Linked DNA regions of Homo sapiens: region 1 is linked to region 2. The links come from fine-mapping of genetic effects on gene expression. A gene starts in region 2. The other region holds a variant in brackets. All regions are shown on one strand. Distances are from middle to middle. Region 1 has its middle 4.1 kb from the start of SLA2. Region 2 holds the start of NDRG3 (NDRG family member 3).

Region 1 (2,906 bases), 96 kb before region 2:
TTATTTTTTTCTGTTTCTAGAATACAGACAGGGTCTCACTATATTGCCCAGGCTGGTCTTGAACTCCTGGGCTCAAGCAGTCCTCCTGCCTCCCAAACTGCTGGGATTACAGGTGTGAGCCACTGCACCCAGCCTCATATCCTTTTGAATAATAAACCGGTAAATTCAGTGTTTCCCTGAGTTCCGTGAGCCATCTTAGCGAACTATCAAACCTGAGGGAGGGGGTCTAGTTTGTAGCCAGGTTGGACAGAAGTATGAATAACCTGGGGATCCACTGCTTGCACCTGGCATCTAAAGCAGGGGGCGGTCTTGTGGGCCTGAACCCTTAACCTGTAGGGTCTGTACTAACTCCAGGAAGCTGGTGTGGTAATTTAGGACACCTACTCAGTGTCTGGGGTGTTGGAGAACTGGTTGGTATATGGGAAAAAAGCTCACACATTTGGTCACAGCAGTGTTGGAAGTGTTGAGTGTAGTGGAGGAAACTGTTTCCCATATAGCCACTTACTAGTTTTGTGACCATTTACAAGCTAGTTATCTCTGGACCTGTTTCTGCATCTATAAAATGGGAATAGCATGTATCTCACTGGATCAATAGAAGGAAATTTATAGGAAGGCATTAAGGGCCTGGCCTATATATAGATGCTCAATAAAGGGCTGATTCCCACACCTGTAACCCTAGCATTTTGGGAGGCTGAGGCAAGATCACTTGAGGTCAGGAGTTCAAGTCTAGCCTAGGCAACAACGTGATATGCTGTCTCTACAAAAAATAAAAAATTAGCCAGGCATGGTGGTGCATGCCTGTAGTCCCTGCTCCTCAAGAGGCTGAAGTGGGAGGATGGCTTGAGCCCAGAAGTTTGAGGCTGCAGTGAGCTATGATTACACCACTGCCATCCAGCTTGGGTGACAAAGTGAGACACTGTTTCAAAAAAAAAAAAAAAAAAAAAAAAAAAAAGGGCCCAGCGCAGGGGCTCATGCCTGTAATTCCAGCACTTTGGGAGGCTGAGGCGGGCAGATCACTTGAAGTCAGGAGTTCCAGACCAGCCTGGTCAACATGGCGAAACCCCATCTCTACTAAAAATTAGCTGGGCGTGGTGGCACATGCTTGTAGTCCCAGCTACTCAGAAGGCTGAGACAGGAGAATTGCTTGAACCTAGGAGGAGGA[G/A]GTTGCAGTGAGTGGATATCATGCCACTGCACTCCAGCCTGGGCGACAGAGCGAGACTCCATCTCAGAACAAAACATAACCAAACAAAAAACAAAAAAAAAGGCAACTGAGGCCATCAGATCAGTTCCTTCCCATGTCAGCATTCTGTGGAGCATTGGCCTGCATTGTAAGGCTTCAGCCTGGTAATCTTTATCTGTTCATATGCATTTGTTTCAACTCCTCTGCCAGAATGGGCATGTCTTTTTTTTTTTTTTTTTTGAGACAAGAGTCTTTCTCTGTCGCACAGGCTGGAGTGCAGTAGCGCTATCTCCGCTCTCTGCTAGCTCCGCCTCCCGGGTTCACGCCATTCTCCTGCCTCAGCCTCCTGAGTAGCTAGGACTACAGGTGCCCACCACCACGCCCGACGAATTTTTTGTATTTTTAGTAGAGATGGGGTTTCACTGTGTTAGCCAGGATGGTCTCGATCTCCCGACCTCGTGATCTGCCCACCTCAGCCTCCCAAAGTGCTGGGATTACTGGCGTGAGCCACCGCGCCCGGTGGTTCATGTCATTTTTTACGAGTGCCTGTCACAGATGTAGCAATCCACATGCACTTTTGCTGGCACTTGCCCCGGGTTACTGAAAACTCATCTGAGATGGTGGTCTTCTGAAATTATTCTTTTTTTTTTTTTTTTTTTTTTTTTCTGGAGACGGAGTTTTACTCTTGTTACCCAGGCTGGAATGCAATGGTGCAATCTTGGCTCACTGCAATCTCCACCTCCTGGGTTCAAGCGATTCTCCTGTCTCAGCCTCCCGAGTAGCGGGATTACAGGTGCATGCCACCACGCTCGACTAATTTTTTTTTTTTTTTTTGTATTTTTAGTAGAGACAGGGTTTTATCACATTGGTCAGGCTGGTCTCGAACTCCTGACCTCCAGTGATCCGCCCGCCTTGGCCTCCCAAAGTGCTGGGATTACAGGCGTGAGCCACCATGCCTGGCTTTTTTTTTTTTTTTTTTTTTTGAGACAGTCTCGCTCTGTAGCCCAGGCTAGAGTGCAGTGGTGTGATCTTGGCTCACTGCAAACTCCACCTCCCGGGTTCAAGTGATTCTCCTGCCTCAGCCTTCCAAGTAGCTGGGATTACAGGCACATACCACCATGCCTGGCTAATTTTTGTATTTTTAGTAGAAACAGGGTTTCACCATGTTGGCCAGGCTGGTCTTTAACTCCTGACCTCAGGTGATCCGCCCACCTTGGCCTCCCAGAGTGTTGGGATTACAGGCGTGAGCCACTGCACTCGGTCTGAAATTATTCTTGATGGGTACAAATATAGCCATTTCTGGAGAAACACAAGCTGGTCTCTTAGAAGACAAGTGGTTGCAGATTATTAAAATGAGAGGTGGAACCCAGCAATCCCACACAGGTGGTGGAGCTGTGACGTGGACCACCTTCTCAAGACCTCAGCTTCTCCTCCTCCATCACAAACAACACTGTCAGGCTTCTCACGATTTTTGGCTTGAGGGAAATACAGACACATCAGATAGAATTCTGCATAATTCCCTGGGATTTGATCCTGGCTGGACTTATTGGCTGCATGACCTTGGGCAAATGATTTATCATCAGTCTTCATTTCCTCCTATAAATGGACAGTGTCGCTTGGTGGATAAGCAATCACATGTGAAAATGGCAACACAGAACCAGCATACAGCAACTCGGTCCTGCCCTGAACCCCAGTGAATGGCTTGAAAGAAATAACACCAGCAATC
Region 2 (2,906 bases):
ACTGAGGCTAAGACCCTGTTTTGTGAACGTGTAATTCTAATTGGGAAAATCAAGCAGGGAAGGCTTCACAGAGAAGGTGGTGATTTAGTGGAGCCTTTGAAATGTGGAGGAGGATTTGCTAAGGGAGAAAAACGACAGTTTGAGCTAGTTATTTTGGGGGAGAAACATTCACATATTTTTATAGCTGTTCATTTGGAACTTTAAATCATGGGAGGCTTCTTAAATTCAGCACCACTCTATCAATGTTCTCTTTCTCTTCTTGCTTTATCTTAAATACTGAAATGTTCAAGCCCAACCTTGGGGCAAAGGCAGAAAGCCTCGGACAGAAAGCCCCGGAATGAGGTGAGTGCTAGCCAAATCTGCTCTGTCACCTCCAAGTCCAGCCCGCCCAGCTAGCCCAGTCAGCCCAGTCCTGCTCTCTTGGCAGGAAAGGAAGGCTAATAATATCCCCTGAGGGCCAGGGTAAGGGGGGGGGGGGGCGCGGCGGGGGTGATCTGGATGCCAGCAGGCAAGGATCACTCTTGTTCTGTCAGTAAGCCACCAAAGGAAAGCTTCCCTGCTTCCTAATCCACGGGGCTCCTAGTCTACCTGTGATAGGGAGGCCAGCTCTGCAGGAAGAAAAAAAGGGCTTCATGACAAGGAAGGGGGAAGCATTTGGATTGGGAAGTGCAGAGGTGGTTATGCGAGGTTATCTTAATAAAATGCTTAGCAAGATCCCTGGCACACAGCGAGCGGTGGAAGAACGTTAGCTCTTATATTAATAACACTATTATTATTACAGTAACACCTCAATTGTACTCCGACAACAAGAAAATCTTTTTTGTGCAGCCTACTTTTACGACGTTCGAGAGCAACTTCAGAGATGACAAGTGATTTCAAAATTTTTTCAAAGGTACGAGATCAAATTCCAACCGCACTGGCCTGAGAGCCCGAGACCCTGAGTTGAGAGCTGACCCTGCCACTTGTCAGCTGCGTGACCTTGGGCATGGCACTTCACCTTTCCGTGCCTCAGTTTCCTCGGCTGTTAAGTGGGGCTAAGAAGCCTCTCCCCGGTAGGGTAGTCGTAGGGTCCCGTTAGAGGATGCCCTCTGCTGCTCTGGGGCCGGACGGGTGCAAGGGCTGCTCACGGCCCCTCTTCCAAGCATCTGGGCTCTTGGAGCGGGCGAGGTAGATGGATGAGCAACCCCAAGGCCCACCAAGCTCTGCCGCCTGCAGAGCCAGAGCGAGAGAAGGGTTCGCGCCTGCGGGGGGCGTCCCTGTGACCCAGGGTGTTGAGCCCGGAGGGAGGCTCTCTTGCTACCCACACGCTGTCGCCGGCGGGCTGGGCGCGGGGAGCGGCCGAGGAAAGCCGGGCTGACCTGGGTCCGGCGGGCGGGCGGGGCGGGGCAGAGGGCCCCGGGGGCACGGGGGAGGCAAGCAGCACGGGCCACCAGGGCCTCGCCGTGCCGCGGAGATGATGCGGGGAAGGAGCAGGGCAAAGGAGCGACGCCCCCGAATGCGGCGCCGCGCGCCCCCCGCGGGCCGGGCGGAGGCGCTCACTCACCTGAGGCGCGGGCACCCGCCGTCAGTGCAGCAGCAGCGGCGGCGGCGGCGGCGGCGGCGGCGGCGGCGGCGGCGGCGAGAGGGGCGGGGGAGGTGCTGCGGTCCGCGCAGGCGCGCCGAGGACGCCAGGGCGGCGCATGAGTGCTGTGCCCGTCCACCTCGGGAACTACCGAGAAGATGGTGGCTGAGCCAGGAGAGGCCGGCGGCGCCATCTTTGATGTAGTTTTTCTTGCTGCGGAGTTTCCTCAGAGAAGAATCTCAGATTTTGGAGGCGCTGGGCGGCAGGGCCATTGAGCTCTGCGTCTGGAGCGCTTCCCTCAGTTCCCTGAGTCGCATCCTTATGAAGCCCCTAAGAGCTCTTGCAGGGTATGGCATCCTCCTTTTAAGGTGACCTAGAGCCATACCCAAGGTCACAGGGCGCCTAGCACAGTGCTCGGCACGTGGAAAGAGCTTAGTAAATTTTTGGTGAATGAACATAGTAATTTAAGAACTAGAGTCCAAGACTCAGGGCTCCGAATTACCAGTCCTCCATTGTATCACCCCTATTACAACCGTCAGCCAAATCATCTACTTTCTTGAATGCAACATTAGAGATGGAATTTTTTTTCCCAGAATGATTGCAGATATTAAACTTAATGACCCAACAATTTAACACCAAAATGTACAGGACACACTCTTCCTCTATTTATTATCTATTATTTCTTTACCATTAAGTACCACTGACTAAAAGTTTTTTTGTTTTGTTTTGTTTTGTTTTTTGAGACGGAGTCTCACTCTGTCGCCAGGCTGGAGTGCACTAGCGCGATCTCGGCTCACTGCAACCTCTGCCTCCTGGGTTCAAGCGATTCTCCTGCCTCAGCCTCCCGAGTAGCTGGCACTGTAGGCGTGTGCCACCGGGCCTGGCTAATTTTTCTATTATTAGTAGAGACGGGTTTTCACCGTGTTGGCCAGGATGGTCTCGATCTCTTGACCTCGTCATCTGCCCGCCTCGGCCTCCCAAAGTGCTGGGATTACAGGTGTGTGAGCCACCACGCCCTTTTAACCCGAGCCAGTGTCGCCATCTCGGCTCAGGTTCCCAAGTCCCTCAGCCTCCCAAGTAGCTGGGACTAGAGGCGGGCGCCACCATGCCTGGGTAATTTTTGTATTTTTTTTTTTTTAGTAGAGATGGGGTTTCACCATGTTGGCCAAGCTGGTCTCAAACTCCTGACCTCAAGCAATCCGCCTGCTTCTGCGTCCCAAAGTGCTGGGATTACAGGTGTGAGCCACCACGCCCGGCCACTAAAAGCATATTCTTTTAATTAAGGCAAACTGAACAAATGAATATTACCAAACATCTCAGAGGGCAGCAATAATATTGTTATTCA

The links. PIP is the estimated chance that this variant, and not a neighbour inherited with it, causes the effect. A credible set is the group of variants that fine-mapping cannot tell apart.
Region 1: its variant is the best candidate, but not a certain one, in a credible set for the expression of NDRG3 in whole blood (TOPMed, PIP 0.67).

The regions. Positions count from the first base shown.
Region 1 is chr20:36,648,862-36,651,767 of GRCh38, forward strand. No RefSeq gene overlaps it. Among named protein-coding and RNA genes, the nearest start is that of SLA2, 4.1 kb to the left of the region's middle. The variant G/A (reference allele first, on the strand shown) is at 1,163.
Region 2 is chr20:36,744,502-36,747,407 of GRCh38, forward strand. NDRG3 (NDRG family member 3) reads right to left here and starts at 1,589. Exons shown (of 16, transcript NM_032013.4): 1 at 1,544-1,589. RefSeq lists enhancers at 1,052-2,018, 1,743-1,842 and silencers at 1,213-1,402, 1,433-1,632.